Linked DNA regions of Homo sapiens. The protein of the gene in region 2 interacts with the protein of the main gene of each other region in a pairwise test. Each region holds a gene or a part of one and is shown on either strand. Other genes may lie near its edges.

Region 1 (10,047 bases), on a different chromosome or scaffold from region 2:
GCAGTGTTTCATGGGGTCACAGCCCAGCCTGGGACTGCAGGTGTGTTCCGAGTCCAGGGCCAAGCTCAGCCTACAGTGGGGTGAGAGTGCACCTGCGGTCAGAGTCAGCCCAGCGCCTGGTTGGGTCTTGGACTCTAGCTGAGGGCTGCAGCTGGGCCTTTGCTCTCACCTCCCCACCCTCTAACCCTTTTGCTCAGCAGCTGCACACTGACCAAGCCTCTGGTTCATTGTTGAATCAGACACTTGGCATTCCTCCCAAATGCAAGGCAGAACTGATGCCTGGAAAGGGCACACTAGTGTCACAGGGCAGTAGCTGTCCCGTTTGCCACCGAGCCCACCTGTAGGCAGCCCAGAGTTCCTGGGCATGCTGCTTCACCTCCTCCTGGGCCAGCTCCTGCAGGTGCTTGTTGGCCCCGACACCTGCGTAGGTAGCCTGGAAGGTCAGCATCAGTGTCCGGAGCAGCTTTCCCAGGGGGTGCAGTGAGTTGCTCAGAGCCTGGGCCAGTGCATAGGCAACAGAGAGAGACTAAGCACTGGGGTCTGGAGCACAGCATGCCCACACCAGCCTCCCAACACTTCTCCCATCTCATACACGAGAACACTGAGGTCCTCTGAGGACAAGGGATCCACAGGCCTGTCCCCTTCAGTCAGCACCCTGCTATGAAAAATGGGAGCCCTTCCCCACCAGGGACAGTGACAATGTCACCCCCTTGGCCACCCCAGCAGGGCTCTCACCTTCCTGAGGTACAGCTGCAGGGCCTTGGGCTCCCGGTGCTGCAGCAGCTCCTCCAGGATGTCTTCCATACTGCCCACACTGTCCTCAGGGTGGGTCCTGGGCACCACACACAGCATCCCTCACCCACACCTCGGCCCAGCCCCCTCCCCCCAGGAAGCCCTCCCCAGCCCACCCTAACCTGTGCATGCTCACACAGCCGGCCTCACCTCTCGCAGGACAGGTAATCCTGAGACCTACGCAGCTCCCTGGAGCTCTGCACGTCGAAGCCCAGCAGGGCCTCCTGCAGGTCCCTGGGGCAGCCAGCACACACAAAGTCCCGGAAGGGGCTGTAGACTCCCTGCCAGCGGCTTTCCACGGGGAAGGCACCCACGCCCAGCTGCCTGCGATGGGGATGGAGGGTGGGTGATGGGGCAGAGAGAGATGGAGCTGAGGTAGGCAGGACTCTGCCCAGGCCCTTGGAGGGGTGGGGGTATGAGCCTGGCCCAGGATCAAGCCCCAAGAAGGGTGGATGGATTGAACCATGCAGAGGGGGCTGACCTCCACGGCTCCAGGAGGAAGAGCAGCAGAGAAAGGGACAGAGAATCTACCCTGCGACGAGAAGACAGACAGAAGCATATGGAATCCTGGAAAGACGGAGACAGAAAGGTGGGCAGATCTGGAGGCCAAGCCAGAGAGGGGGTCTTGGTCCAAGAGAGACCAGTGTCCAAAGTCTGGGATTCCCCTCCAAGACATCCCCCTCTGCCCTCCCTTACAGCTGGTTCCTTCCTGTGGTTGATCCCGCCCTGGCCAACAGGCTGGGGCCTGGCTGCGCATGTCTAATGGAGCCCTGCACTCCAGTGTCATGCTCGTAGGCTACACGCAGCCCACACTCACACCCAGGCTGGGGCCTGCCCCTAGGGATTGCTGTCCACTCCCAGCTCCTGCTGTCAGGGAGAAGCAGCATGCAGGGACAGCGGGCCAAGTAGTCAACTGTACTCCCTCCCTACATCTGAAATGCTGCCTGGGACCACTTCCCATTAGAACTGCCACCCACACAGATTCCTTCCTCTGTGCAATACTGAGTCTTCCTCAACAGACGCAACAAGAGCAACTGTTTTCCAAGGAGGAACTCTGTTCCTACAGGAAAAGAAGTCTATCCTTCTCTGGAATACTCCTTGATAATGACTGTGATTCCACTTAGCAAGTTTCCTTCTTTACCTTGGCTGCCAGGAAACTCAGAGCCAGGCTCAATGATCAGTTGTAAATGCCGTAGGACATGTCTACATATCCCTTTCTTTTAAGGTTAACATATGCTCTTATTTTCTATTTTTTTTTTCCTGTATGTTTGGTTTGTAAACCGTATTGTATCCTTTCGAGACAAAAAAAAAAAAAAAGCAGGACCTAAGCAAAGCCTACAAATAATATTTCTCTCCAGTTTTGTGGTGTACCGCATTATATCCACACAGCCCCTGATCCCAAGAGTCTCTGACTGGAGTTGTACACCCTGGGCTCTCGGAACTCTCTAGAGGGCTAAGAGGTGGGTGCAAAAAGGCCCCTCTGAGGAGACCTGAGTCTTTGGGATGGAAACACAGACACATCCCCAGATAGGCCCAGAGCCAGAGGGGCCAGGCACTCACCTCTTGCAGGTACTGCTCGGGTCTGGTGGGAGGGCAGCCGTGTCCAGCACACCCTGTGTGTGCAGTCCTCTCCCTGCCCCACTGCCGAACGAGCCCTCCAGGGTGAAGCCATTGGGGAAGGTGACCTTGCCCTGGGAGCCAGGAGAAGGAGCAGGGATGTCTGTCTGCCCAGTTACCCTTCCAGCCAATCATGACAGGCCACAAGCCTGTCCATCAGTGTCAGAGAGGCTAAGGACTAATGAATGGGCTTCCCGCCATCCATTCAAGCTGCTCCATGCTGAGGGGTTCATAATCCTCTATGCCTGCCAGAGCCCCCCACCAACAGCTGTGCCCACGTCTCAGGGGCTCGCTCACCTCTGAGGTAGGAAGAGGAGAGAGATGCAGAAGGGACTCACAGGCAAGAGTGGGGAGACCACCACTGAGGGGCTGGGGTGGGGGTAAGCCCAGGGACAGGCAACGCCTGAGGAGGGCGGTGTCTTGCCACATGAGGCTGTCCCATTCATAGCAACCTGATCTCCACCCCTTTGCTCCAGTCATTATGAAACCAAAACAGCCCCTACATTTCCAAAGGCTCCAGCGGGGACACATTGCCTTTTCCTGGGTTAGCTCAGGGAGGCACACACTGAAGGCCAGTGCCTCCAGGGACAGCTGCTCGAGGCACTGGTACTGGTGGAGGGCGTGTATTCTGAACTAGGAGGGTATGGAGGGACACAGCCAGGAGACCACCGGTACCCTCTGGATAGCAGGCAAGGCCACTGGTCCCCTCTCACCTCACTCCAGAATCAATCGCAACTCTGTGGCAGGGTGGAGTTGCTGTGCCCACTCCTTGGCTCCAAGGGAGGTGGGACAGGCCCTCCCCTACCTGCCCCCAGCCCTGAGTCTAAGTGGGGAGATTACAGACACCAACCAAGGCCTTGGCAGGGTGTGGAGGGGGGCCTCAGTGGTCCTCACCTTCCCCATGAGGGTCAGGTCCCTGGTGAAGGTGCCCTCATACAGGGAGTCGTCTTCAGAGAGGAGGATGCCCGGGCCCTTGGGGAGAGGAAGCCAGGGAGGGTAGAAAGGGTGGGTGAGGAAGGGCCAGGAAACTCAGGGTGGAGAGAGATGGCCAAAGAAGGGAGATGTGCCCTGACACATGGCGAGAGGGGCCCTGAGCCTCATCACGCCCCACAGGACTGTACCTAATTGGGACTCTAGCCTTTGGCCTGCTAAGCACCAGCCCCGAGGACCCCATCCCTGGATTTCCCCAAATGACACCCTCCGCCCTGGCTCCTCACCCCAGCGGCTTCTTCAGGAAGCCCTTGGGAGCTCAAGAAATGTGGGGCTTTCTCTGAAACATCCCTGCTTCCCTGCTTGTCACTGGCCCTGGGAACGGCAGAGCTGACCAGGCTCCCTTGCCCCATGGGCTGCCGGGAAGCTCAGAGCCGAAAGGGTTACAATTAGTGTTCGGCTTATTTCCAAATCTATTTTGTGTACTTATTCTTCCCCTTGTCTTCCTCTTTCCTTGAAGGCCTCCTTCAATCCTTTCGAGAATGAAGTAGAGCATAAACAAACCAACAGACCATAATAACAGGAACAGCCATCAGGCCAGAGCCCCACATTCCCCAGGCACCTGGAAGGGTATGGGTGAGGCAAACATGGGAGTCCCAGGCTCGGCGGCCAGGCTCAGCAGACCAGGGTGTGAGTGTCAGCTCTGCCACTCAGTGAAGGTGACATGGAGCAGGTCCTCTGATCCCTCTGAACCTCTCATTTGTCATTCACTAGGGACACACTAGGGATAATAATGACATCAACCTGCAGGGCTCTTGGGAAGATCCCACAAGATCAGGGTGGGAGCTTAGCCCAGAGCCAGGTGTCAAGTTAGGACTCTGTGAATGTCAGCTAATGCATCATCATGAGCAAGTGCTCCATTCTTGTTAGTTCATTGAGTCTATGGTAAGTATTCTTAACCTGAGTTGCTGATGGGGAAACCAAGGTCAGGCAGAGCAGGGATTGGCCAGGGCCAGGGGAGGTGGGTGGTAGAGCTGGCTTCCTGCCCAGGTTCTGGCTCCCTCCAGCACCCAGGAACACAGCCCCCTTTCCCATCCCTCCCTGAAAGGCCTCAGCTCAGCCTCAGTGCCCCCAGCGGGAGTGGGGTGCAAAGAGAGGGATAGCCCAGGATACACTCCACTCACCACCGTCTTGTCCGCCTGGAAGGTGCCCTGGTAGCAGACACCTGCCTGGGTGACCATGACCCCTGGGCCGTGGCGCTGACCAGCCTGCCACATGCCAATGTAGCGCTCACCTCTGGAAGGAGAGGAATGTGGCCAGAGTTGGATCAGACTCATTCCCATGTACCTCCTGGGCACTCTGCTGGCACGGGGCGGCAGGGAGTGCAGATAAGGGGCAGTGACATCACCTGAATCCACTCAACAGACACAGTGCCAGAGAGGTCAGGACCCCCAAGAGGAATAGAGAATGGAGGAGGGAGGGAGGCAGCCTGGGAAGGGCATCTGGGAGGCTTCTCCGTGGAGGTGGCAGGAAGGACAGGGGGAATAGGAGTGTGTGCAAAGCCATGGAGGTAGGAGCATGTGATGGATACGTGGGGACTTCAGTGGTCCAGAAAGGCTGGAGGGGTGCCCAGGAGACGCAGCTGGGGTGAGGTCAGAGAAGCAGGCGAGGCTGTGATTGCCAGGCCAAGGATCCAGGGCTTTATCACACAGCCCAGAGAGCCAGCAAGGGCTGCAGTTTTTAGACGTGACAGAGCAGGGGGTCAGAAATGCCTCTCCAACACCATGAGGAGGGGTGAGGGGCGGGGGCGACCCTGCAGTCAGCGTGACCAAGATTCGCTCAGCCTGAGCCTCCGCAGCAACCGAGGGACTGGAGGGGAAGTGAGGGGCTTAAGAGAGACACAGTGGGGGACAAACAGGAGCCTGTGTCCTGCAACAATCTGGTCTGTGAGGGCCCGGTCCACCCCTCCGTCCTGGGAGTGGTGGCTGCAGGGCGCTCACCTGTCACCATCCTCCTCAATGCCATAGCCGCTCCTCTGGCCCCTCTCCCAGTGGCCCGTGTACCTGAAGGGCTGGGGGGCCTGCGGACCACTCTCAAGGACCCCAAATCCGTGCCGCAGGCCCTCCTGGAAGTAGCCCTTGTACACCTCGTCGGTGCTGTACCTGGGGAGGGCCATCAACAACGAGCTCTGCCTCATGGAGCTCAGCCCAGAGGATGGGCCCAGCCCATGAACCCCCCAGCCAGGGTCACTTACTCACAGATGCCGTAGCCACACATGCTGCCTTCTCGCCAGTGACACTTGTAACAGTCGAACTTGTCCTCAGAGGCCTGGGGCAGCAGGCGGATGCCGAAGCTGACAGCATGGTTGTGGGGGTGGGGATCAGCCCTGACCTGAGACGCCCATTACACCTACTCCATGCCACCCAGGAGTATCCCTGCCCCCAAGGAGCCTTCCAGACAACAGGGAGACTCTCAGAGGCCCTCAGCCTTCCTATCCTTCAAAGGGCCCCTCTCAGGACCCCTCCCTCCAGCCTGGTCCCGAGCACCTTGGAGCACCTTTTGGCCTGTACCACTCCCTCTGTGACCTCGAGCTGAGACGGGCCCCCTATTCAGGCCCCCGGTTCCCCTTTGGTACAGTGGGCGGGGGCTGGACCGGATTGTCTCTAAGTTCCTGCTTGAGGTTTGGGAATTCAGGATGGGGCCGGGCTGGTGACCACAGCAGGGGAGGAAAGCACCCTTCAGCCCACTGCACGCCTCCCAGCAGTAGCCCCAGCCAGCCTTACCCATGCTCCAGGCCCTGGCAGAAATTCCCCACGTGATTCCGCCCATCCGGCCATTTCAGGGTTCCCCTGGAACACAGTGGAGGTTCACGAGCCTCAGGCCTACCCACCCCTCAGCAACCTCAGCCACCTACTTTCTCAGACGCCCTCCCTTCCTCTTCCCTTGGACTGGGCTCCCTGCACCCACCCAGCCCTCTTGTCTGAGCTCCGAACATTCCTTGCAGAAAGCCCCTTTAGCCCTTTTCTACTCCTGGCCCAACTGTACCAGCAGCCTCATGGGGCACACTCACCACATCCCATAAGGAAAGCCCTGGAGACATCTAGGTTCCCTTTTTTCCCTTGACCAACAGGAAGCTCAGAGCTAAGAATCAAGCTCAAGTTTAATGCTGGTCTGTGGGGTTTCTACCACCCTCCTCCCCACTTCTGTGTTTTTTCTGTCCTTTTGTTCATAAGTCTTCTCGAGCCCTTTCTGAAAGGAGGCAGGGTATCAGAAACTAGCGGAGGTGCTTGAGAGTGTAGCCTTGTGAGTCCCTTCTGCTCTCTGGGTCTGTTTTCCCAGCTGTGGCATGGGGTGGGGCCACATGGTCTATAAAGGCTTGCCTGTCTGTGGGGTCACACAGACCTGTGATTGAGGCCGGCTCACCCTATCACTTGCCCTGAGACCTTGGGCAGGTTATGCCCATCACTAGGCCTCAGTGTTTGTACCTATGAAATGGGTAAAAGCACTCCATACAGAGCGTCTTCATGAGGACCGATGGAGATAGAATGTGTGCAAGCCATTTCAACACTGCCAGACAATGAGGTACAGATGTGAGAATTATTCTCCCACCCTCCTAAGAATGGAATGGCACCTGCAGGCTGTAAGGCCAGCGCGTGGTTGCTGCCCCTTGTCCTCTAGCGTCACCATCAAGACTTTATTTGGCACAGACTGTCTCTGGGCCAGGCCCAGTCCAAGAGGACTTAAGAGGGACTCTGAGAATTGACTGTCCACAGAGAGTAACCGCTCCTGGAACATGTCCTGAGACAATTAGGCTTGTGTGCTGCTCTCTGCCCCGCAGACCCCCAGGGAGTCCCACCTTGCCACCCAGAGCTCCAGCCACTCACTTGCCGTGGGGCCGGCCCCTGCACCACTCGCCCTCGTAGGTGGCCTGGCAGAGCCGGCCCTCTGCCTGGAAGGTATATTCTGCGCAGCGGCAGTCGGGAGGCTGGGAGGGCTCCAGGCCAGCCCCCAGCACGGGGAAGTCCTTCTTCCCATGCAGGGCCTGGTGAACAGCCCAGGTCACCTTCCACTGCCAGACTGCCTGGTGGGAGGGGGAACATGGGGAAGGGGATCACTGCTGCTGGAGGCTTTCCCTCCAGGAAGCCTTCTGGGGTAGCTCCAGGTACCACCCCCTCCACCCTCCACCTCCTACTCCATTTTGTCACCTTGGGGACCCTTCAACTGCTTCTTGCTACTCTCTGGGCCCTCCACCCAACCTGAGATCCTCCTCTGCAGTTTCAGGGCCTGCCCAGAGGGGCCAAACAAGACCTCAGGGCAGGGATCAACACAGGACCCAATTCTGTCTTTAGAAAGAAAAATACCCTGTTCTTTTTGACATTCTAATTCTTGACCCCGATTTACTCTGACCAGGTCCCCAGAAGCCTGCCAGACACTCGCCGGCACTCCTGTGGGGCCCTGCAGGGTTGCATACTTCTGCCCTCTTCCTACCCTGTCCTCTGACCCCGCTCCCGCAGTTCACAGCTCACCCACACTCACCTGGCCCTGGGAGTCCTTGGCACAAAAGGAGAACTCTTCTTCGGGCGTGAGGAGGTGAAACGTGCACCTAGACAGACGGAGGTGATGAGTAGGCCCCAGCTTTGTCCAGGAGGGTGGAGGGGCCCAAGCCAGAGTCCCAGGGTGTGGGCAGGTGTCATGGGGGTAAAGGGAAGAAGGCCTGGGGTGTCAGCCGAGGGGGTTGCTCACCCGTCCTGCCCAGGATCCACCCACACCAGCTTCAGATCAAAGGTGTGGACATTGTGGCCCTGGAAGAGGATGGACACAGGAGTCATCCAGAGCCCAGGCCAGATGCTCACCTACCCTCTGGCCAAGGCTTGCCCCAAGCTCAACCTTGTGTGGCCACCAAGGCTATTCTGCCCAGCATGTCCAGGACTGAGTCCCTCTCCCCTCTGGCTTGCTCCCCACCTCAGGGACAGCTCCTCCATGTCCTTTCTACCCCAGAGCTTGGCCAGGAACTCAGAACCAGCCTCTAGCCCCCTGTGGCTACCAGAGTGGTCTACAAATGAAGCTGGGACCTGGTCAACCCCTGCTGGAAACCTCTCTATGGCTCCTACTGCCTGGGGGTTGAGACACTGCTGAGCCTAACATTTAAGACCTCACAGACCACTACGCCATCAGGGCCACTCCACAATCACACCTTCATGAGCTTGCCCCAACCTCTCCTCACTGTGAACTTTTGCTCATACTGTTCCTTCTACCTGGAATGCCATCCTGCTCTGACAGCCAGAAAAAAAGCCCCTTCCTATGGGAAGATTTTGTGTAGCAACTTCCTACCCGGCCCAGTCAGGCCAATCACTGCTCCATACCAGAATGGGGAGGACGTGGGAGGCCCAGGCCTGAGGGGTGAGGAGGAGCTTGCCAGCCGCAGGCCAGGGACAAGAGATGGCCCACCAGACACAACAGCATGTGCAAAGGTCCAGCGTCAGGAGAGGGCTAGCACAGGGAAGGGACAGTAGCTCATCAGTGTACCTGGAGTGGAGTGTGAAGTTGGGAGTGGAGGGGAATTCAAACTAAATCAGAACCAATCCCAAAATCAGGCTTCAGGGGACACAGGTCTAGGCTGGGCAGCAGCTTCCTGCCAGGCCCCGGCCACCTGTCTGCAAGGGGGTTCCAGGCCAACCTTCTAAGGGGTAGAGAAGACTGTGCTGTGGACCTCACCAGGACAACATGATTTCAGGATGGATGAACCACAGTTGGTGACTGGCCATGTAACAATTCCCAGCCTCAGGCCTGGCTCCCTTCTGACTTCCACAATGCTGAAAGCCCAGGCACTGCTCCTGTAGGGTACTTTTCTCTAGAAGCCTTCTCATCCAGCCCTCCTTAGTCACCCCTCAGTCACCCATGACTTTCTGTCTGGGGTTCCTCTCTCATTTGAGTACAATGGGAACTAAGAGTTGTCTGGTGTCTACTGTAGAACAAACTCACTCACAATGACCCCCACATTCCCGATGGGAAAACGAAGGTGAAGACATGTAACCAAGGACACCAGCTGGGAAGGGCTGAAGCCGGGACAAACCCTGGACAGCCTTTCCCCTCAGCCCATGCTCCTCTGGGGACAGCTCCAGTGGACCGCCCCTCCCCAACACAACGCCTTTCTATCCCTGACCATCCCTCCCAGCCCACTTTCTCAGTCCCAGCAGCATGCCCCTTTACTGCTCCTTTTCCAGCCAGACCCCAGAACCCTACTGTGGCCTCAAGACCTTGGGTCAGCCCCACCCCAACCTGCAGCAGGACGAGGGCATCATCAAAGAGCAGCACACGCTCAGCCCGCAACGGTGCGACCGTCACGGGTACGTCCTGGCTGTCCTGAAGGAGTCTGTGAGCAGGGGTGCAGAGCACATCCTGGTGGGGCAAAGAGGACAGTACAAGGCTTAGGCACCTCTGTCCTGCAAGCTGCCTGCCACTCTGCCACCTCCCAATGTACCCCAGACACCTCCCAGAGGCCCCCTCCAGTAGACCTGGAGCGGACCCTGGGTCAGAGATAGGCAGAAATGCACTGATTATACATTCCTGGCTCTCTTGAAGCTTCAGTGTCCCCTCCCACACCTCTGTGCCACGGCCCCAGCCATGCCCCTATCAGTCCTCTCCCAGTACTCGGCCACCCCTGCCTCCCTTCCACAATTCTCGTTCCTCTACCTAGTCTCCTAATTC
Region 2 (9,875 bases):
TGCAGTATTTGACAGCGGACTTCACACATCAAATGATTTCACCCACGAATGCTTGTTTCTGTTAGATGAGGCCCTTTTCCTTTGAACAAAACCATGACACTATTATCACACCCAACAAAATAATTATTAATATTATCTAATACCCAGTCCAACTCAATTTTCCCTGTCTCAATAATGTATTTTTATAGTTGATTTGTTCAACTAAAGATCCAAATATGACCACATATTGTCTTATGTTGATAGGTCTCTTAGGTCTCTTTACATTTGCAATAGGCTCCCCTCATTTTTTATTCACCAGCTCTCTTTACATTTGCAATAGGCGCCCCTCATTTTTTACTCACCCATCCCTGACACACATTTAAATTCTAATTGGCCAAGCAAACCTTATCAACAATAACACCTCTTCAGCCTCCATATGCTATAAGCAAAACTAGACATTCATAGGCCTGCAGCTGCTTAGGCATAGACATACAGCTCCACCTTCCATGTGTAATTCAACATGGAAACCAATATGTCAGGCCATCCCACACACTTTCCGCTTTCAAGAGAAGAAATTTAGATTGCTTCAGCAAGCCAATTCTCTGAAATGAAATCTCTTCTGTGCTGCAATGGCCTGAAGACTCTGAATGATTTAAAAAATAAGACATCCATTCATTATGGCTCCCTTTTGAAATTAGCCAAACATAATCAAGAATCACAAAGTAAATCAGACAAAAGCCTCATAATTCGTTATCGTTAACATTAACAACATTAATTGAGCACCTAGATAATGCGAGACATTGGATTATAGAAAGGATGGCCTGTGTCCCTACCCCAAGGGACCTACAGTCTAAATAGGCATCGCATCATTTAGACACAAATGCCCCAGGAGGACAACAGTCACAGTACCACCCAAACTGACATCCATCTCCTATCCCCTAGGTTAAGAATATTTATGAGATTGATCCATGTGGTGGAATAAAAAGAAAAGAGCAGACCAGGCGCGGTGGCTCACACCTGTAATCCCAGCACTTTGGGAGGCCGAGGCGGGCAGATCACGAGGTCAGGAGATCGAGACCATCCTGGCCAACATGGTGAAACGCCGTCTCTACTAAAAATACAAAAAATTAGTCAGGCGTGTTGGCGGGCGCCTGTAGTCCCAGCTACTCGGGAGGCTGAGGCAGGAGTATGGCGTGAACCCAGGTGGCGGAGCTTGCAGTGAGCCAAGATCACGCCACTGCACTCCAGCCTGGGCGACAGAGTGAGATTCTGTCTCAAAAAAAGAAGAAAAGAGCAGAAGGAACCGCATTTGACTGTGAATTCCACCATTCATGAGCTGTGCCACAATGGATAAGTTACTCAACCTGATTCTCAGTTTTCTCATCTGTTAAGAGGAATAATCCCACCTACCTCACAGAGTAGCAGCTGTTAACATTGAATCATAAGCTCTTACATAAAAATCCAGCAAAGATGATGATGATGATAAAATCACTGAATACTTTACAAAGCACTAGACTAGAATGTTTTCTGGCTATCCATCTAACCCTCACACCAGTCCTATGAAGCAGCTCCCATTCTCATGCCATTTTCCAAAGAATTGAACAGAATGGATGAGTGGTCCACCCAACGTAACACAGCTACAGGTGTGAGAGAGCCAGGATGTAGAGGATAAAACTTCAGGGTTCTTTCTGCCAATAATGGTATGATAATACCTCCCAATACTACCATGGGGAGGTGTAGGGGTAGAAGCAGGGCGACACGAATGAGCATGCCCTCCCGTACAGATCAATTATGTTATAAACTCCTAAGGTACAGCACTCCACAGCTCCTACCCTTGCCCAAACAGGAAGCCCCCAAGAGGCTGCCAAGGTTGTCCTACCCAAGGTGTGGTTAAGTTCAGAGCCATAACGGTGGTTTCCTTCCTCATTGGGGCAAGTCTTCAGCTGTCTGCTGAAGAGTACTTAAGTCTTTATAATCACAAGTCTCAAACACCTAACATTTGTTCAAATATTTGTCCAAAGTAAGATCATAATTTTTTCCTATATAATTCCTTACTTCCTTTTTTGTACATACATAGGTGAAAAAGGACTGAAGGAGGGGAGCCGTCAGAAAAGAGGTGCAACTACCCTGTGGCCACTATACTGTGAGAAGGCTGACCTAGCCAAGTGGAAAGGGCACCTCGCGGAGAACTGAAGTCCTGGCCAACAGCCAGGACCTATGCCACCCACATAAGTGACATCATTTCGGACTTCCCCAACTGAAACCACATTAAGCAGAAGCACCACCCAGTCTACTCACAGATTTGTGGGAAATCAAATGCTGTTGGTTTAAGCCATTGAGTTTTGGGGTGGTTAGATAACTGAAGCAGCTAGAAAATAGCTTTCCAGTCAGACCAAATACCACATCTATGAATGACAAGCACCATCATGGCAACTAAACATTGTTTATCCGTTGTATCAACGGAAATGATACAACTCCTTCAATCTGAGCATGCCCATCGGCTGAAACATTCAGCTGGGTAAACCTGGATCTATACTGTACCAGGCTCAACAGTGTTAAATAACTACTAATAATGATCACATGAATAACGGTAACAGCAGCCATTATTTACCAACTGTTTATTACATACTAGGCATTGTGCTAAATCCTTTATTCATTTAATCCCTTATAAAAGCCTTTTGAGGTGGGCCACTATAATGCCCATTTTACTGATGAGGTCGCTGAGGCATAGAGTGGTACAGCGACTTGCCTGGGATCACACTGACAGTAAACAGTGATACGGGATTTCACTCTTGGCCATCTGATTCCACAGACACCGGGCTCTTAACTATCAGCTTGCTTTACCCCTTCAAAAGTGTTATGCTACTTTAACAAAACTGCCCCTTGTTGGTTTGTTTTGTTTTGTTTTGTTTTTTTGAGACGGAGTCACTCTGTCGCCCAGGCTGGAGTGCAGTGGCGTTCACTGCAACCTCTGCCTCCCAGGTTCAAGCAATTCTCCTGCCTCAGCCTCCCGGGCAGCTAAGATTAGAGACGCGCGCCACCAAGCCCGGCTAATTTTTGTATTTTTAGTAGAGACAGGGTTTCACCATGTTGGCCAGGCTGGACTCAAGTGATCTGCCCGTCTCTGCCTCCCAAAGTGCGGGGATTACAGGCCTGAGCCACCGCACCCAGCCGAAACTGCGCCTTCTGAGTTAATGTGTGTAAAGAGTTTAAGACTGGGCCGGGCGTGGTGGCTCACGCCAGTAATCCCAACACTTTGGGAGGCCGAGGTGGGCGGATCACGAGGTCAGGAGATCGAGACCATCCTGGCTAACAGAGTGAAACCCCTTCTCTACTAAAAATACAAAAAATTAGCCGGGAGTGGTGGCGGGCGCCTATAGTCCCAGCTACTTGGGAGGCTGAGGCAGGAAAATGGCGTGAACCCAGGAGGTGGAGCTTGCAGTGAGCCGAGATCGTGCCACTGTACTCCAGCCTGGGCTACAGAGCAAGACTACGTCTCAAAAAAAAAAAAAAAAAAAAAAGAGTTTAACGCTGTCTGGTCCATGGTAAGTTTTCAGTAAACACCAACTCTTACTATTAGGAAACCTGAAGATGTGGAATGAAAGATGAGAGGAAGTACTGTATATGACTGGCGTACAGTACGCCCCCAATTAATGTTAGCTATTTGGATGATTTATATAGGGCTTCTTCACCAGCAAGCACTCCGGTGCTCGGTAATTTTCTGTTTACAAGTAGGCTCTCCCCACACCCTGTGAGCTCCCTGCGTGTAGAGCTGTTTTCAACACATCCTTGCAGGTTCGGAGCCCAACACGTGGCCCCCAGAGCAAATAGCTGCTCAGTAAGTTTCTTGACAGGAGAGAAAACGCTTCCTTCCTTCACCAGAAATGCGAACTTGGATTTCTAAGATGACACCTCCCCCAGCTACCAGCCCTTAACATGATTCCAAAAAAGAGGGCAAGAAGGGACAAGGGTCCCACCCAAGAAATGCGGGGGCCAATGGGCTCCATGGGATAAGAGATGGAGCCGGGCTTGTGGCCAGGACACTTGAGAAGTCCGTGCAACTCCGTGACCGGCCACACCGAGAGGGGGACCTCCCAAACCCCCCAGCAGTCCTAAAAAGTCCCTAGGAAAAGGGCAAGGCCCTGAGAGGGAAGTCACCCACCTCCCAGGTGGCGGACCCCCCGCCCGCCCAGGGTCGACTAGGACTTGGGACTACCCCCTCCGCCCATCCCACGGCAGCTGCAGGCGCAGGAAGAAAAGAAGTGACAGGGAGTCCAAAGTTTCCCCAACAACAAAAATCCTTCCCCCGAGGGAAGGGAAGGGCTCCCACCCTCAGCCCGCCCCGCCCAGGGAGGAGGGACCGCCACCAGTGGATCTAGGCAGTTGGGGGTCCCGCTGTTCTGGTCCCGACAAGGAGTGCCTGGCTTGAGGTTCCCCCGCCCCGCGCTTCGTGCACTCTGAATTCTTTGAGAGGGTCCCAGGGAGGGACAGGGGTGCCCCAACTCTTACTTACAGTCGTCTAAGTCATCCTGCAAGTCCACAAAGTACAGGGGGATCTCTGAAAACCAAGAAACACACAAGAAGTTACCAGGGGGCTGCGGCGAGAGGGGACGGGGTCGGGCAGGGGCCCCTCGGCCTCGCGGGGTGGTCACGGGGCGAGAGAGAGAGGGGCACCCCTGGCATCCCCCGAGCCCAGCCCCACTCACCCGCCATCTTGGGATGGGCATGGAGGCGGGACCGGCAGGGGCGGGGCCCTGCAGACAGGGGCGGGGCCCTGCAGACAGGGGCGGGGCCCTGCAGACAGGGGCGGGGCCCTGCAGACAGGGGCGGGGCCCTGCAGACAGGGGCGGGGCCCTGCAGACAGGGGCGGGGCCCTGCAGACAGGGGCGGGGCCCTGCAGACAGGGGCGGGGCCGTCGGCTTCGGGCCCCGCCCCCGATCCGCGCCGGCCGGCCGGCCCCGCCCTCTCAGCGAAGGTGGCTGCCGAGGTGGGCGGGGAGGTCAGGTGACGCGGCCGGCGTCCCAAGATGGCGGCGGCGGCGGCTCCCGGAAGGCCGCGGCGGCGTCCCGGCTGCTAAGGCGGGCCCCACGCGGCTGGCAGCGGACAGGCCGGACCTACGGCCGGAGGACGGGCGGCAGCCGCCTCTGCGCGGACCGGGGCTGGGCCGTGCGGCGGCAGCGGCGCCAGGGGATGCTCTTGCTGGGCCTGGCCTCTCCCTTCTCAACTTAGGGCGGCGGCGGGCCCGCGCCCCTGGCTCCCGGGCCATGGCGCTGAGGGAGCTCAAAGTGTGTCTGCTCGGGGTGAGTGGCGGCGGGTCCGGCCGGGAGGGCCACGGGAGGCTGGGCTGGCGGGGACCCCGGATCCCCCCTGTCCCCTCATCCCTTCCCCCCTCCCACGTCCAAGACGCTGTCTGCCAGCCCCGTGGACCCTCCCTCCAGCTCGGGAGCCGTCCCGCCCACCTCTTGCACTCTCGAAAAGGTCCTGGAGGCCGAAGGGACCCTTCCCCTTCCCCTCCCTGGAGCCCGTGGACTCTTCCCGCCCCACAAAGAGCAAACAGCCCCCCCTTGCCTCTCTATTGCATCTGGGTTAAGAGAGGTTCTTAAATAGTTTTCTCCCAACTTACCAAGGTATTAGTTGGGAGTTGGCCAAGTCTTCCAAAGTAAAACCAATAACAGGTCTTTAGGTTTTACAAGCAGCATTAGCCTACTTTGTCTCTTGGGTGTTTTTGAACTTGTGGGATACCCCTGCCACTTGTCCAAAGAGTTACTTTGCCAAGTAACTCTTCCTGTGGAGAAAAGGGGTGTTCAAATCAGGAAGCCCCAAAGACTAGTTTGAAGCTTCAGCTTCCTGTCTTGTCAGGAAAGACAAGGTGTTGGCCATTTCAAAGCCTTCTTTCTGAAATTGATGCTGTCATTCCAGAGTTTCTGCCTTAAAGATCGGCAGGAACTCCAATAACTAATCTTTATTCCCCCAAATAGGGTGGGGCTAGGATTCATCAGGGATTACTCAGAGGTAACTCAGGAGTTCAAAGTTTACTAACATATGTTAAAAAGCAAGTGGACTTGTTACTTTTTACACGAAGCAGAAACTTTGGGTCTCTCAAAAGGTCCTAATCTGTCTTAACGGCAAAAACCTCTCCCTTTTAGTACAGTTGGAATTTCCTAATTACTCTACTGAATTTTTATGACAACCGCTTTTGTGTTCCTCCGTTTATAAAATTTACACGTCTAGGGTGATTTTTCTAAAATCCTGAACTTATGCCACAAAGTAGTTTTTGGTGTCTGCCAAAAGGTAAACTTTTTCTCAGTCCCTCATCTCGTTCTCTTTCAGGATACAGGTGTAGGTAAATCGAGTATTGTGTGGCGGTTTGTGGAAGACAGTTTTGATCCAAACATCAACCCAACAATAGGGTAAGAGACTTTTATTTGATACACATCTAAAGGTGCATTGAAAATCCTTCCAAATACATAGTGTGTTACAGGTGTAGGCCCTGCGCTTTGTAGTCATTGAATTCTGAGTCGCTGGTTCGCATCATCTCTGGAAGGACTTGAAAGAGTCCAGTGAGGATCTGTGTATTTTAGGAAAATTATCTTCGGACTTGTTGGGGGTGAGAACTTCAAAATGCAAATATGAATTGGAGTTCTACTAATTATTAGAACAGACACAGAAGCTTCGGTCTATAAATATCAACAGCAATTACACCTTGAAATAAGGCAGATGAAAATAGATCCTGGTGCTATTCTTTCAGGCATATCAAGTAAAAGACATTTAAATGGTTTTTGTCCTTCCTGAAAGTAGTAGGTTGAGATCTGAACCCTTACACATTCCTGTACTGGTAGTAATAATAAATTAATAAATTCATATTGAAATGGAAGGTTTTTTCAGTTCTCTGGTTCTATGGATAAGTAAAGTTGATTGTTCATATGTTTTTGACGCTATAAGAAAACTTTTCATTTTGCAATACTAATCCTTTGACTACATAAGAAGTTGTGTTTTATAGGCTTTAATATTATGTTAACCTTATAAAACTAAATAGGTGCTGTGCTCTAGTTTTAATCATCAAACCCTCAAATGGTTTCCAGCATTTAAAGAAAAAATCTATGTTATCCATCATTAGGATAAAATTGGCCTTTGTGCTCCATGCAGATCATTCTTTGACTAATAGAGAAATATTTTACAGCCCAGGAGAGAAACTGCCATAAGATTGTCCCCTGAGAAATTATGAGCTCCTGCTGTCAGAGGTTATTTATGGATTTTTTTGAGACAGAGTTTCGCTCTTTTTGCCCAGGCTGCGGTGCAATGGCGCAATCTTGGCTCACTGCAACCTCTGCCTCCCGGGTTCAAGCGATTCTCCTGCCTCAGCCTCCTGAGTAGCTGGAATTATGGGCGCCCACCACCATGCCCAGCTAATTTTGTATTTTTAGTAGAGACAAGGTCTCACCGTGTTTGCCATGCTGGTCTCGAACTCCTAACCTCAGGTGATCTGCCCACCTCAACCTCTCAAAGTGCTGGGGTTACAGGCATGAGCTGCCACACCTCGCCTATGTGTTCAATATTTTTTGTCTGCTTTTTTTTTTTTTTTTTCACCCAGGCTGGAGTGCAGTGGCACAATCATGGCTCACTGCAGCCTCAATCTCCTGGGCTCAAGTCATCCTTCCACCTCAGGTAGCTGAGATCACAGATGCACACTATCACACCTGGCTAAATTTTGTATTTTTTAGTAGAGATAGAGTTGCACCATGTTACTCCGGCTGGTTTTCTTTTTTTTTTTTTTTTTTTTTTTTTTTTTTTTTTGAGGTGGAGTCTCGCTCTGTTGCCCAGGCTGGAGTGCAGTGGCGCGATCTTGGCTCACTGCAAGCTCCGCCTCCTGGATTCACGCCATTCTCCTGCCTCAGCCTCCCGAGTAGCTGGGACTACAGGCACCCACCACCATGCCTGGCTAATTTTTTTTTGTATTTTTAGTAGAGACGGGGTTTCATGTATTAGCCAGGATGGTCTCTCTCTCCTGACCTCGTGATCCGCCTGCCTTGGCCTCCCAAAGTGCTGAGATTACAGGCGTGAGCCACCGTGCCTGGCCGCCTATCTGCTTTTTTAAACCCTGTGGGTCTCCTACACATTTGAAGGCATGGGGATGAAATTCACCAATAAGTTTCTGCAATTAAAATGCTTTTCCGTGTCCTTTAAGAAAGAGCTGGGTATGACACATGTAAAACATGACCCCATCCTTCTCAGGGCCTGCCTGTCCCTACCTGCATGGGAAAGTGAAGTGTTGGGAAGTGACAGCAAGTACTGCTGGTGATTCAGTGAGTGATACACTTCACACTGAGTCAGAGCTGAAAACCTAAAATCCACAAGACACCCAGACACCACCTTGGCTAGAAGTGCTCTCTCAAATAAGAAGAGAGAAAAGTGAAGGGTGTAGCTTCATGCATCTTGGTGAGGCACGCCCCATCCTGAGTGTCCACTGTTCCCTTTTTGCCAGTAGCTCCCAATCTGCCAGATGCCTGTGGCTCCTGAGCTGCCTCTAGTCCACTCTCTGCACCAGGAGATTTGGCTCACATTTTCACAGGGAAAATAGCATACAAGGCTTTCTCCTCATTTTCTTTCTTCTGCCTTTTTTTGTTTCTTTTTCCTCAGTTTTAGAAGGTGGCTTCCTCCTTTGTGACCAACCCCAAACATGCCCCTGAGCTCTGGAGCCCCACCTCTTCATGAGTTACCCTGTTTCTTCCTCAGCCCTATCATCTTGTCATAGCCTGCACACAGGTTCCGAATCCACCCCACTCCACCACAAGAGCACCCATTCCCCAACCTACTGCTCAGATGGTGGAACTCCTGAAAGAGAAGTTACCACTTCCGCAACTGCTGCTCACTCTTCAGCCCTCCGTCATCTCAGCTCCTCCCTGCCATGCCACTAAAACCACCTTCCCCTGGTACCAGTTTCCATCTAATAGCCAAAGTCAAATGGCCTTTTCTTGGTAGTTTTCTTTATTCATAGAGTGCCTGCTATATGCCAGGTGCTAGACTGGGTGCTGGTGCCTAGACCAGGGGTGGGCAAACTGTGGCCTTTTTGCCCGCCTCCTGCTTTTGTAAATAAAGAGTTACTGAAACAGTCACACCCAATTATTTACTTACTGTCTTGCTGCTTTGGGGCTACAATGACCAACTTGAATAGTTGCAACTAAGCCTTGATGGGCCACAAACCCAAAAATATTTGCTATCTGGTACTTTTCAGAGCAAGTTTGCTGACCCCGATCTAGACAAAATGGACTTCTGTCCTCGTAGACCTTACCTACAAGAAGCTACATTATGACTAGTGTACAGGAAATGATTTATTCTTTTTCTTTTTTTTTTTTTGAGACTGAGTCTCTCTCTATTACCCAGGCTGGATTGTAATGACACGATCTCGGCTCACTGCAACCTCTGCCTCCCATGTTGAAGCGATTCTCCTGCCTCAGCCTCCCATATAGTTGGGACTATAGGCGCACATTTGGGAATCTGCCCGCCACAATGCCAAGCTAATTTTTGTATTTTGAGTAGAGACAGGGTTTCACCATGTTGGCCAGGCTGTTCTCAAACACCTGACCTCAGGTAATCTGCCTGCCTTGGCCTCCCAAAATGCTGGGATTACAGGCATGAGCCACTGCGACCAGCCAGAAATGATTTATTCAACCCTTTTCTGTGCTATGAAGGAGAAATATGCAGTACTATGAAAACATGTGACAGGGACCTGACCTGGGCCTGTGGGGATAACTGACTCCTACAGTGATCAGTAAAGGTGTGAAGCACCTAGCAGCACTGACATTTAAATATTGAAAGATGAATGGATTAAGTTTAAGAATCAAAGTTGGCTGTGCACGGTGGCTCACACCTGTAATCCCAGCACTTTCGGAGGCCAA
Region 3 (9,933 bases), on a different chromosome or scaffold from region 2:
GGTGGATCACGAGGTCAGGAGTTCAAGACCAGTTTGTCCAAGATGGTGAAACCCCGTCTCTACTGAAAATACAACAAAAATTAGCCAGGCGCGGTGGCAGGCACCTGTAATCCCAGCTACTCAGGAGGCTGATGCAGGAGAATTGGTTGAACCCAGGTGGCAGAGGTTGCAGTGAGCCAAGACTGCACCACTGCACCCCAGCCTGGGCAACAGAGTGAGACTCTGTCTCAAAATAAAAAAGAAAAGAAAAAGAAAAAGAAATATTAATATTTGATCCAAAAAAGTTTTTAACACACGTTAGAAGGAAATATGTCGGCCGGGCGTGGTGGCTCATGCCTGTAATCCCAGCACTTTGGGAGGCCGAGGCGGGCGGATCATGAGGTCAGGAGATCGAGACCATCCTGGCTAACACAGTGAAACCCCGCCACTACTAAAAATACAAAAAATTAGCCGGGCGTGGTGGCGGGCACCTGTAGTCCCAGCTACTTGGGAGGCTGAGGCAGGAGAATGGCGTAAACCTGGGAGGCAGAGCTTGCAGTGAGCCGAGATCGCGCCACTGCACTCCAGCCTGGGCGACAGAGCGAGACTCCGTCTCAAAAAAAGAAAAAAAAAGGAAATATGTCAAAAAATTAACAGCAGTTATTTCCTGGTGTTAAGTTTACAGGTGATTTTTATTTTTTATTCTACTATAAGGTATTACTATTATAGTGAAAACTATTTAAAATATAGTTTTTACAGTAAAAGAAGAAATGTCTTTTTTTTTTTTTTTTTGAGACAGGGTCTCAACTCTGTCACCCAGGCTGGAATGCAGTGGTGTAATCACAGCTCACTGCAGTTCTGTCCTCCAGGACTCAAGCAATCCTCCCATCTCAGCCTCCTGACTAGCTGGGACTACAGGTGCACATCACCATGCCCAGCTAGCTTTTGTATTTTTAGTAGAGACAAGGTTTCGCCATGCTGCCCCAGCTCCTCTTGAACTCCTGAGCTCAAGTGATCTGCCTGCCTCAGCCTCTCTAAGTGCTGGGATTACAGGCATGAGCCACCATGCCCGGCCAGGAATGTCTTAAAATACTTATTGTATGAATAATGAATTCTATCAGTACTAGCTAAGAGACTTGGACTTTATCCTACAAGTATTGAGATTTGACTAGAAAAACTAAGTAATTTTTTCCTTAAAAGCTCTCAGGAAATGAAGGGTCATTTCCTGATTCCTTATTCTATATTAGGTCCCTCTGTTATAGGCTCTTATAAGACCAGGTTTCTTTCCCTTTCTAGCTCTTACATAAACTCATAATTACAGACTTGTATTACTTGATTTGTGTCTGTAATGCACTAGACTGCACATTTAGTAAAAGCAGAAACCGTACCTGTTTTACTAACCACCACATCCCTAAATCCGTAATGTGCACTGTGCTTGACATATGGGGATTCAATAAATATTGTCAATGAACAAATGATAAAAAGAGTTATGGGCTTCTATACAGTTCTCTCAATAAATTATCTATATAGTTCATAACATATTGTACTCACAAGATCTTTCATTTAAAATTAAACTCAAGGTTTGAGACTTCAAAGTCTTAACATTTTCTCTCATGAATTGTAAAATGCACACTACAGTGTAAAAGCCAAAAACCAAATTTTCTACTTTGCAATAGTTCTTATAACGGTGTTAATAATTATTTCCATATGCAAAGCTAAAGGACTTAATATTCCACTTCAGGATATTTTTAACTAGGGGAAAGTGATCATTTTTCCATTCAAAACTGATGTTTCCCTACCCCACCCTCCAAGATTTGAATTACATTTTTCTAACTACCTTCAAGACATCAAATTATTTCAAAATCAACAGGTTCAAATCTTCTCACTTTGACACTTCCTTACATTCATTCTTACAGGCAAAAAACTACAGTTCACATTTGATTTTTCCCACTTTTAACGTATCATCAAGTTTATTACCTAAATCTTCTCTGAAATATGTTACAATCCTCCCTTCTAGGTTCCCTTTGTATTCCAGTCCACAAATCACCATCCTAATTATGAATCAAGTTAAGTCTCCCACCATTATTCTACATCATGTCCTAAAACCACTTTCATCATATCACCTGGCCACTCTAAAACGAAGGGTCTCTCACTATTGTCTTAAGCAGTGGTTCTTTCTAAGTGTGGTCTCCTGACCAGCAGCATCTGAATTACCTGAGACCGTGTTACACAAGCAAAATTTTCAGTCCCACCTCAGACCTACAGAATCAGAAACTCTGAGGATGGGGCCCAGCAATCTAAGACTCTGATGTACATTAAAGTATGAGAATCACTGGTCATAGGAATACTGAATCTGGATTCCTGTATTTAGTTTGGGAAGATGTCCATAACCCAATCCCGTCTTCCTTGTTAACCTTATTTATTTCCCTTCAATAGACAGTCTTCACTCTAGTGAAGATATATTTCTTCATTCAGTCCCTTCAAAGATTCATTCTCACCTATGTCTCTACCCATGTCAGTCCATTCTCATGTTTAACCAACCACTTCCCACTTTCAAGGCCCAGCTCATTTCCTATCTTTTCTATGAAAATATCTCCAACTATTGTAGTCCACAATATCACCCCTATTTAAATAATAATTATTTTAATTATTATTTTTACAGGTAGTACCAACTGGCTTACATTTTAACTATTTGCTGTTTGTTGTTTTTTAAAAATATATGGGTCAAGTTTCTGCTTTTCCCTTTGTATATAGCTCTGGACACCCAGTACCTACTCAATGAAGTCTTGCCAGTGTGGTTATGTCTTACTGACACTTTTATGAAGGGTACCACAGGTCTAACTATTATTCCAACAAGGACCTTTTATATTTTCCTGTGCCACCTAATGACACGACATCCACAAATTTCCTCTCCCAACCAGAAAGATTATAAAATGCTGTAACAGCGTAAACACTGACTTCAACACCCAGGAAACTGAAGGGTTTCTGTGACACTTAACAGAAACCTTCTCGATCTAAGCTATCACTCCTCCACAAACTTGGCTTTCAACTAATTTCAGTAATAGAACAGTTTCACCCAGACAGCTGTTCATCTGAATTTGACAGGCACAGGAAGCCTGGGCACAGTACCCACTTTAATGTAACAACTTAAATCAAAGCATTCCAAAACCATATGCAGACTTTTTAAAAAGGTTATTCTAAAAGACAGGATGGGCGGAGGCTCACGCCTGTAATCTCAGCACTTTGGGCGGCCCAGGCTTGAGCCCAGGAGTTCAAGACTAGCCTGGGCAACACAGCGAGATCTTTAAAAAATTAGTTGGGCGTAATAGCGCGTGCCTGTGGTCCCAGCTCCTCCCGAGGCTAAAGCGGGAGCTTCACTTGAGCCTAGGAGTTCGAGGCCGCAGTAAGCTATGACCTCGCCACTGCACTCCGGCCTGGGCGGACAGACTGAGACTCTGTCTCCAAAAATAAATAAAAATAAAAAATTAAAGACAGCATGGAGATGGTGGGAGTGTGACAGATGGACAACTACCAATACTCTGAAGAAAGACTTCCTCCTGAAAAGGGTATACCAACGTACACGGGATGAGGTGCGGCACAACCTACCAAGTTTACTGCTTACGATAATGAGTTAAACGGTAATGAAAACCGGAACGGTTGTTGCAGCCTCGGAAATTTTTCTTGCGAGTGGGTAACAACCAGAAAACCAAAGTCTAAGGGAAGCGGTCTGACAGGAGAGAAAACAAAACTTTCTGAGAGCCTGAGCCTCAGGGATTGGCTGACGGGGGCGGGCCGGGTGTTGCCAGACGCGAGACGCGGAAGAGGCTTGCGGTTGACCAAAGAAGACTGGGGGAGGAGACCCGGGACCCACGGTATTACCGTTCCCGCACAAGTGGCGTCACTTGTGGTGTGTCTGGGGTCAGGGAAGCGGCTAGGGGACGCCAGGGCCCATGGGAGCTGGTAACCAAAAATGCGATTCACTCACCTTTCCCATTCCGAGGCAGTGGTGAAGTCCGTGATCTCAAATACCTCGGATTCGGGCTGCGGGAAGGGGAAGGAGAGAAAAAGAAATTAAGCCCCAAGGCGAAGACATGAGGAACGAATTTAGATAGTGACAAGGATTAAGTAGGGAGCAAAGAAATCACCTCACTGTCGGCAGCCATCTTGAGGAGCGCCGGGCCTGGCGCTAAGGCTGCCGGGAAGAAGAGCGAAAGAGAACGGGGCGCGTCCCCGCCCCCGGAGCCCCCGCCCCCTGTTCATGAGTCTTGCCCTAGTAAGTAGGAGTGCTGCTTCTTCGCCCAGGTCTGTTAAGTCTTTAGTCCGCCCTCAGCTGGTTAATAAAACTCCGCTCTAGCTGGTTTCATAAAACTTGAAAATTTCCTGTGATGAATACAGAAAGGGAACAGAAGCCAAGGTGATAGGACAAGACCCTAAACTCATGTGGATAAGATTGTATTAAAAAACCTAAAGCATGTTGGGTTTGTTTTCATTCAACCCATATTTGTAGTTAGTACCAATTAGCTTACACTTTAACTATTGGGTTTCTTTTCATTCACCCTCTATTTATTGATTGTAAGGCAATAAACTAGGTGCTGTAATACCACTTCTACCCTCTGCCCCTGACCCTGCAAGAAGTTGCTCAGTTGATTGTCCTGAAATAAAATCATACTAGTTACCTGGTTTCTGGGAAGAGCAACATGGTGTTCAACAAACGCTTCATTTTTTTTTTTTTTTTTTTTTTTTTTTTTTTTTTTTTGAGACGGAGTCTTGCTCTGTCGCCCAGGCTGGAGTGCAGTGGCACGATCTTGGCTCACTGCAAGCTCCGCCTCCCGGGTTCACGCCATTCTCCTGCCTCAGCCTCCCGAGTAGCCGGGACCACAGGCGCTCGCCACCACGCCCGGCTAATTTTTTGTATTTTTAGTAGAGATGAGGTTTCATCGTGTTAGCCAGGATGGTCTCGATCTCCTGACCTCATGATCTGCCCACCTCGGTTCTGTCGCCAGGCTGGAGTGCAGTGGCGCGATTTCGGCTCACTGCAATCTCTGCCTCCTGGGTTCAAGTGATTCTCATGCCTCAGCCTCCCGAGTAGCTGGGATTACAGGCATGCGCCACAACACCCAGCTAATTTTTGTATTTTTGGTAGAGATGGGGTTTCACCATGTTGGCCAGGATGGTCCCGATCTCCTGACCTTGTGATCCGCCCCCCTCGGCCTCCCAAAGTGCTGGGATTACAGGTGTGAGCCACTGTGCCTGGCCTTGTCTTTATTTTAACACCTTCAAGTTATTTATATATATTCTGCATCTGAGCTTTATATTGTTTATATATGTAGCAAATACCTTCTCCCACTCTGCAGCTTGCTTTTTCACTATTTTTTTTTCAGACTGGTGCTCTAAAAAAGCAGACACTACAATTCCAAGCTGGCGAAGTCTCTGAAGTCCAACTGGAAGTGCTAGGGCAAAAATTATGCATCAGGAAATGCGTAGCCCCTTGTACTACTGCCTTGCTCCGTCAATCATTGGCCAGGATCTCCCCAAGAAAACAGTGGCCTTGGCTATCACTGTTTGCTCAGTTTTTGGCTGGAGGAAGCACTCCAAGAATAGCAGGTCCTTGGCTCAACAGTTAGACAAACCTGATAAACCCAACAGCCGTAGGCTGTTCATCTAACCACACGCCTTACAGCTGGGCAGTGAGTCTTTCTTTAAGGGAGGTCTGAGCAGCACATCTTTTGTGTCTGCCACTCTCTTTTAATAGACAGCCTCTTTTAACATGCACCTACAATGTTTTCGACATCCTGTGCTTTCTCTTTCCTCTGGACATGCTGTCGTTTAGAATCTGCAATGTCCTTGTGTCTATAGTTTACCTGGTAAAATTTGTCCTTCAAGTTTCAGCTTGGATATTTGCTCTTCTGTGAAGACTTTCTCTGCCCCCTGTTAGGAGCTTATTTGTATTTGCAACCAGTTTGGTGGTAATCGATTGGATTCTCACTCAAAATTCATATGTTGAAGCCCTAACTCCTAGTACCTCAAAATGTGACTGTATTTATGGACAGGGTGTTTAAAGAGGTGATTAAGTTAAAATTAGGCCGCTAGAGTGGGCCCTAATCCAATCTGACTAGTGTCCTTATGAGAAGAGATTAGGACACCAGGGATGTGCACACACAGAGGAAAGGCCATGTGGGGACACAGAGAGTAGGTGGCCACCTGCAAACCAAGGAGAGAGGCCTCAGGAGAAACCCAACCTGCTGATACCTTGGTCGTGGGCTTCTAGTCTTCAGAGCTGTGAGCAAATAAAAAAATATTTTTTTGAGATGGAGTCTTGCTCTGTCACCCAGGCTGGAATGCAGTGGTGAGATCTTGGCTCACTGCAACGTTCACCTGCCAGATTCAAGCAATTTTCCAGCCTCAGCCTTCTGAGTAGCTGGGATTACAGGCATGTGCCACCACATCCAGCTAATTTTTGTATTTTTAGTAGAGACAGCATTTCACCTTATTGGCCAGACTGGTCTCAAACTCCTGACCTCAGGTGATCAACCCTCCTCGGCCTCCCAGAGTGCTGGGATTACAGGTGTGAACCACGGCGCCCAGCCCTGTGAGCAAATAAATTTTTGTTGTTTAAGCCTTCCAGTCTGTGGCATTTTGTTCAAGCAGCCCTAGGCAAACATACATCCCCCACCCTCAACCCAGGAAGTCAGACACTCCCCTTCCATGCTTCCTTAGAGCTTTTGACACAGCCCTAGGGCAGCCTGATATTGTCCTTGTTTTGTATGCCTATCCCTCCACTATTTCTAAACATTGAGTTTCTTGAAAAAGAGAATGGTTTGAATGACTCTATCTCAAAATGAGAGACAAAAGGAGGATTCCTTTTTTGTTTAAAGACAGGATGTCTTTCTGTTTCCCAGGCTGGAGTGAAGTGGCATGATCATAGCTCACTGCAGCCTCAAACTCTTGGACTCAACCAATCCTCCTGCCTCAGACTCCTGAGTAGCTGAAACTACAGGTGCCCACCACCACGTCCAGCAATTTTTTCTATTTTTTGCAGAGACATGGTCTCACTATGTTGCTCAGGCTGGTCTCAAACAACTAAGCTCAAGCAATCCTCCTACCTTGGCCTCCCAAAGTGCTGGGATTACAGGCGTGAGCCACTGCGCATAGCCAGAAGATTACATTTTTTGGGGGGGGTGGGAACGGAGTCTTGCTCACTCTGTCACCCAGGCTGGAGTGCAGTGGCACAATCCCGACTCACTGTAACCTCCGCCTCCTGGGTTCAAAGCAATTCTGCCTCAGCCTCCCGAGTAGCTGGGATTACAGGCACTAGCCACCACACCCGGCTAATTTTTTTTTTTGAGATGGAGTCTTGCTCAGTCGCCCAGGCTGGAGTGCAGTGGTGCGATCTCGGCTCACTGCAAGCTCCGCCTCCCAGGTTCACGCCATTATCCTGACTCAGCCTCCCGAGTAGCTGGGACTACAGGCGCCTGCCACCACACCCGGTTATTTTTTTTGTATTTTCAGTAGAGACGGGGTTTCACCGTGTTAGCCAAGATGGTCTCGAACTCCTGACCTCGTGATCCACCCACCTCAGCCTCCCAAAGTGCTGGGATTACAGGTGTGAGCCACCACGCCTGGCCTAATTTTTTTATTTTTGGTAGAGATGGGGTTTCACCATGTTGGCCAGGCTGGTCTGGAACTCCTGACCTAAGGTGATCCACCCACCTCAACCTCCCAGAGTGCTAGGATTACAGGTGTGAGCCACCACATCTGGCCAGGATTACTTTTTGAGAAGCCAATTTAAAGATTCATGGATTGCAGACAAGCTGGAACCCTAGGATAACCTGGCAGAAATCCTAAAAGTCAGAAACTACGGTACTTGCACCTTCCTCTGTTAGGCTGAGAGAGTACTCACCTTGATGGGAGTAGAAGCAAAGTAGAGCATAGGAAGCAAAACAGAGTAATAGCCTGTGTGTGCTTAAATTGGTGTCAAGCAGCTTGAAGTTGAATTGGTAATGAGGGAGTTTACGTAGATCTAACAATCTCTGAATGGTTTTTACCCTGAAGTCTTCATCCACTAAAGGAGAGAGAGAGAGAGAGAGAGAGAGAGAGTGTGTGTGTGTGTGTGTGTGTGTACGTGCTTGCGCATGGTAAAGGTAGTATTGCAACATTGTGGCCAGGCCGCTTAGGTTCAATCCCTAGCTCCACCATTCATTAGCTCAAAAGTTCTAAGCCTCAGTGTCATCTTCTGTAACGTGGCAATGATGCTGTTTATTGTTTCAACTCCATAGAGTTGTTATGAGGGTTAAATGACATTAATCATGTCCTTTATGGACTAACGTAGGAACTAGTCAATAAATGTCAGCTGTTGTTATTGCGATAGAATATCGTACCCCATTCAGTTGAGAATATATAATGTTACGCCCTACCTTAGAAGAGAAACCCCTGCATCCTTTGGTAAGTGGCAGAAAAGAATTTAGCAGCACACAAATGCCGGGTGACCTTATGGAGTGCCCTGTGTCCACTTCCTCATGATTATGTTTTCATAGTCCATGATTTGAAGTCTTTTGCAGTTGGGTTTATTACCACTGGACTCAGACAAAAATGCAGTCTGTTTACTGAAGCTTTTGCTTCAGAATATCACAAGCATATCTAGAGAAGAAGTATGTTGTAATGTAAGGATTTCTGTCTGCTAGCGCTTTCTCAAGGCTGAGTCTAAGAATGCAATCAGTTTGGTGGTAATCGATTGGATTCTCACTCTGTGACCTATATGCAGCTTTGAAAGGGGCCCTTCTGGCACCTTGTGGGGATTACAAAGGCATGGATCTCTTAGAGAAAGTCTCAGTGCATCAGGTGATCACAGTAATTGTGCCAACCATGGAAGTACATAGGGGTTTGGTAGTTTTAAAGCACTTAAGCAACAACTTGGAAGAGCATACAAAACTTGTTTTCCTTCCTGGATGAGACTGTCCTGCTTTCAATTCTCTAAGCTAAATGCACAGTGGATGGTTGCCTAGGAGACAACCTGTAAACTAAGCAGTCTATTTGCAGCTAACTAAAGGGTTTGTGCATGCAGGACCAGCTTAATTAAAGACAAAATTTAAAAGGAAAAATTATTTGGGCTGTACAACACTGAAAAAAAAATCTGAATCTATGCTGTTTTTAAATGGATCCCTGGTTGAAGTGTGGGTTACAGCTGTCCCAGAAATCAGTGCCACAATGAATTAGGATGATGTTGGCTACTGTTTGGCTTGGTGTTTCTTCAACTGTGTGCCACGTCCCTCAGCAAAACACAGCACAGGTAAGCCGAATCTCTGCTTTTCATCTCATTTTAGATAAACTGTATGTTGCAACTTTTTTACTCCCCAAAGGATGTCCCAGAGGAGGAATGCCTGGTAAACTGATAGAAGAAACTGTGTCCTAATCTCAAATAATAATATCCTTGGAGTTGTAATAAACTATTTTTTACTTTTCAAATATTGTGACGATTTCCTCCAATACTTATGCAGGCACCTCTAGACCATAGGCTAAATTACTAATGACAAGAAAAGTGTATGAAAAACACTTGCCTTCATTGAATTATACCTAGGGGTAATCTTTTAGTTTAATCACCCAAATATGTGTAAACTTTACATGGTATGAATCTTCTTGTAACCAATCAATATTGTATACATATGTTCTTAACCATGCTTTCTCAACATGAAATGAGATTTCTGTTGCTTTAAATCTTTATTGCATAAGGTTCTAAATCAAATGTACACTATAACAAAAGGTTTTGGTTTTACAAATAGATAAACCATGCATGCAATTAAAAATAAAAAAGACTGGGTTTTAATAGATGCTAAACTAAAAACCTCTGTGGAATGAAACACTATTCCTCAAAAATCATTGACCAAAACAGTTCTAAATGGGGCGGGCATGGTGGCTCATGCCCGTAATCCTAGCACTTTGGGAGGCCAAGGAGGGTGG

Evidence for each region.
Region 1: the proteins of RAB22A (region 2) and ALS2CL interact in binary tests that used the Homo sapiens proteins (3 or more experiments, as listed by UniProt).
Region 3: the proteins of RAB22A (region 2) and RAB3GAP1 interact in a two-hybrid assay, tested with the Homo sapiens proteins (one study listed by BioGRID).

What each region holds. Positions count from the first base shown.
Region 1 is NC_000003.12:46,675,907-46,685,953, forward strand, and holds part of ALS2CL (ALS2 C-terminal-like protein), read right to left. Parts: intron 9,739-10,047; coding exon 9,619-9,738; intron 8,142-9,618; coding exon 8,083-8,141; intron 7,943-8,082; coding exon 7,876-7,942; intron 7,421-7,875; coding exon 7,224-7,420; intron 6,189-7,223; coding exon 6,123-6,188; intron 5,693-6,122; coding exon 5,594-5,692; intron 5,502-5,593; coding exon 5,340-5,501; intron 4,636-5,339; coding exon 4,524-4,635; intron 3,382-4,523; coding exon 3,304-3,381; intron 2,484-3,303; coding exon 2,353-2,483; intron 1,117-2,352; coding exon 943-1,116; intron 833-942; coding exon 736-832; intron 497-735; coding exon 339-496; intron 71-338; exon of another isoform or gene 1-70. UniProt on the Homo sapiens protein: Acts as a guanine nucleotide exchange factor (GEF) for Rab5 GTPase. Regulates the ALS2-mediated endosome dynamics.
Region 2 is NC_000020.11:58,304,734-58,314,608, forward strand, and holds the start of RAB22A (ras-related protein Rab-22A), read left to right. Parts: upstream 1-4,981; 5' UTR 4,982-5,243; coding exon 5,244-5,279; intron 5,280-6,309; coding exon 6,310-6,389; intron 6,390-9,875. UniProt on the Homo sapiens protein: Plays a role in endocytosis and intracellular protein transport. Mediates trafficking of TF from early endosomes to recycling endosomes. Required for NGF-mediated endocytosis of NTRK1, and subsequent neurite outgrowth.
Region 3 is NC_000002.12:135,046,517-135,056,449, reverse strand, and holds the start of RAB3GAP1 (rab3 GTPase-activating protein catalytic subunit), read right to left. Parts: upstream 4,159-9,933; 5' UTR 4,143-4,158; coding exon 4,125-4,142; intron 4,021-4,124; coding exon 3,965-4,020; intron 1-3,964. UniProt on the Homo sapiens protein: Catalytic subunit of the Rab3 GTPase-activating (Rab3GAP) complex composed of RAB3GAP1 and RAB3GAP2, which has GTPase-activating protein (GAP) activity towards various Rab3 subfamily members (RAB3A, RAB3B, RAB3C and RAB3D), RAB5A and RAB43, and guanine nucleotide exchange factor (GEF) activity towards RAB18.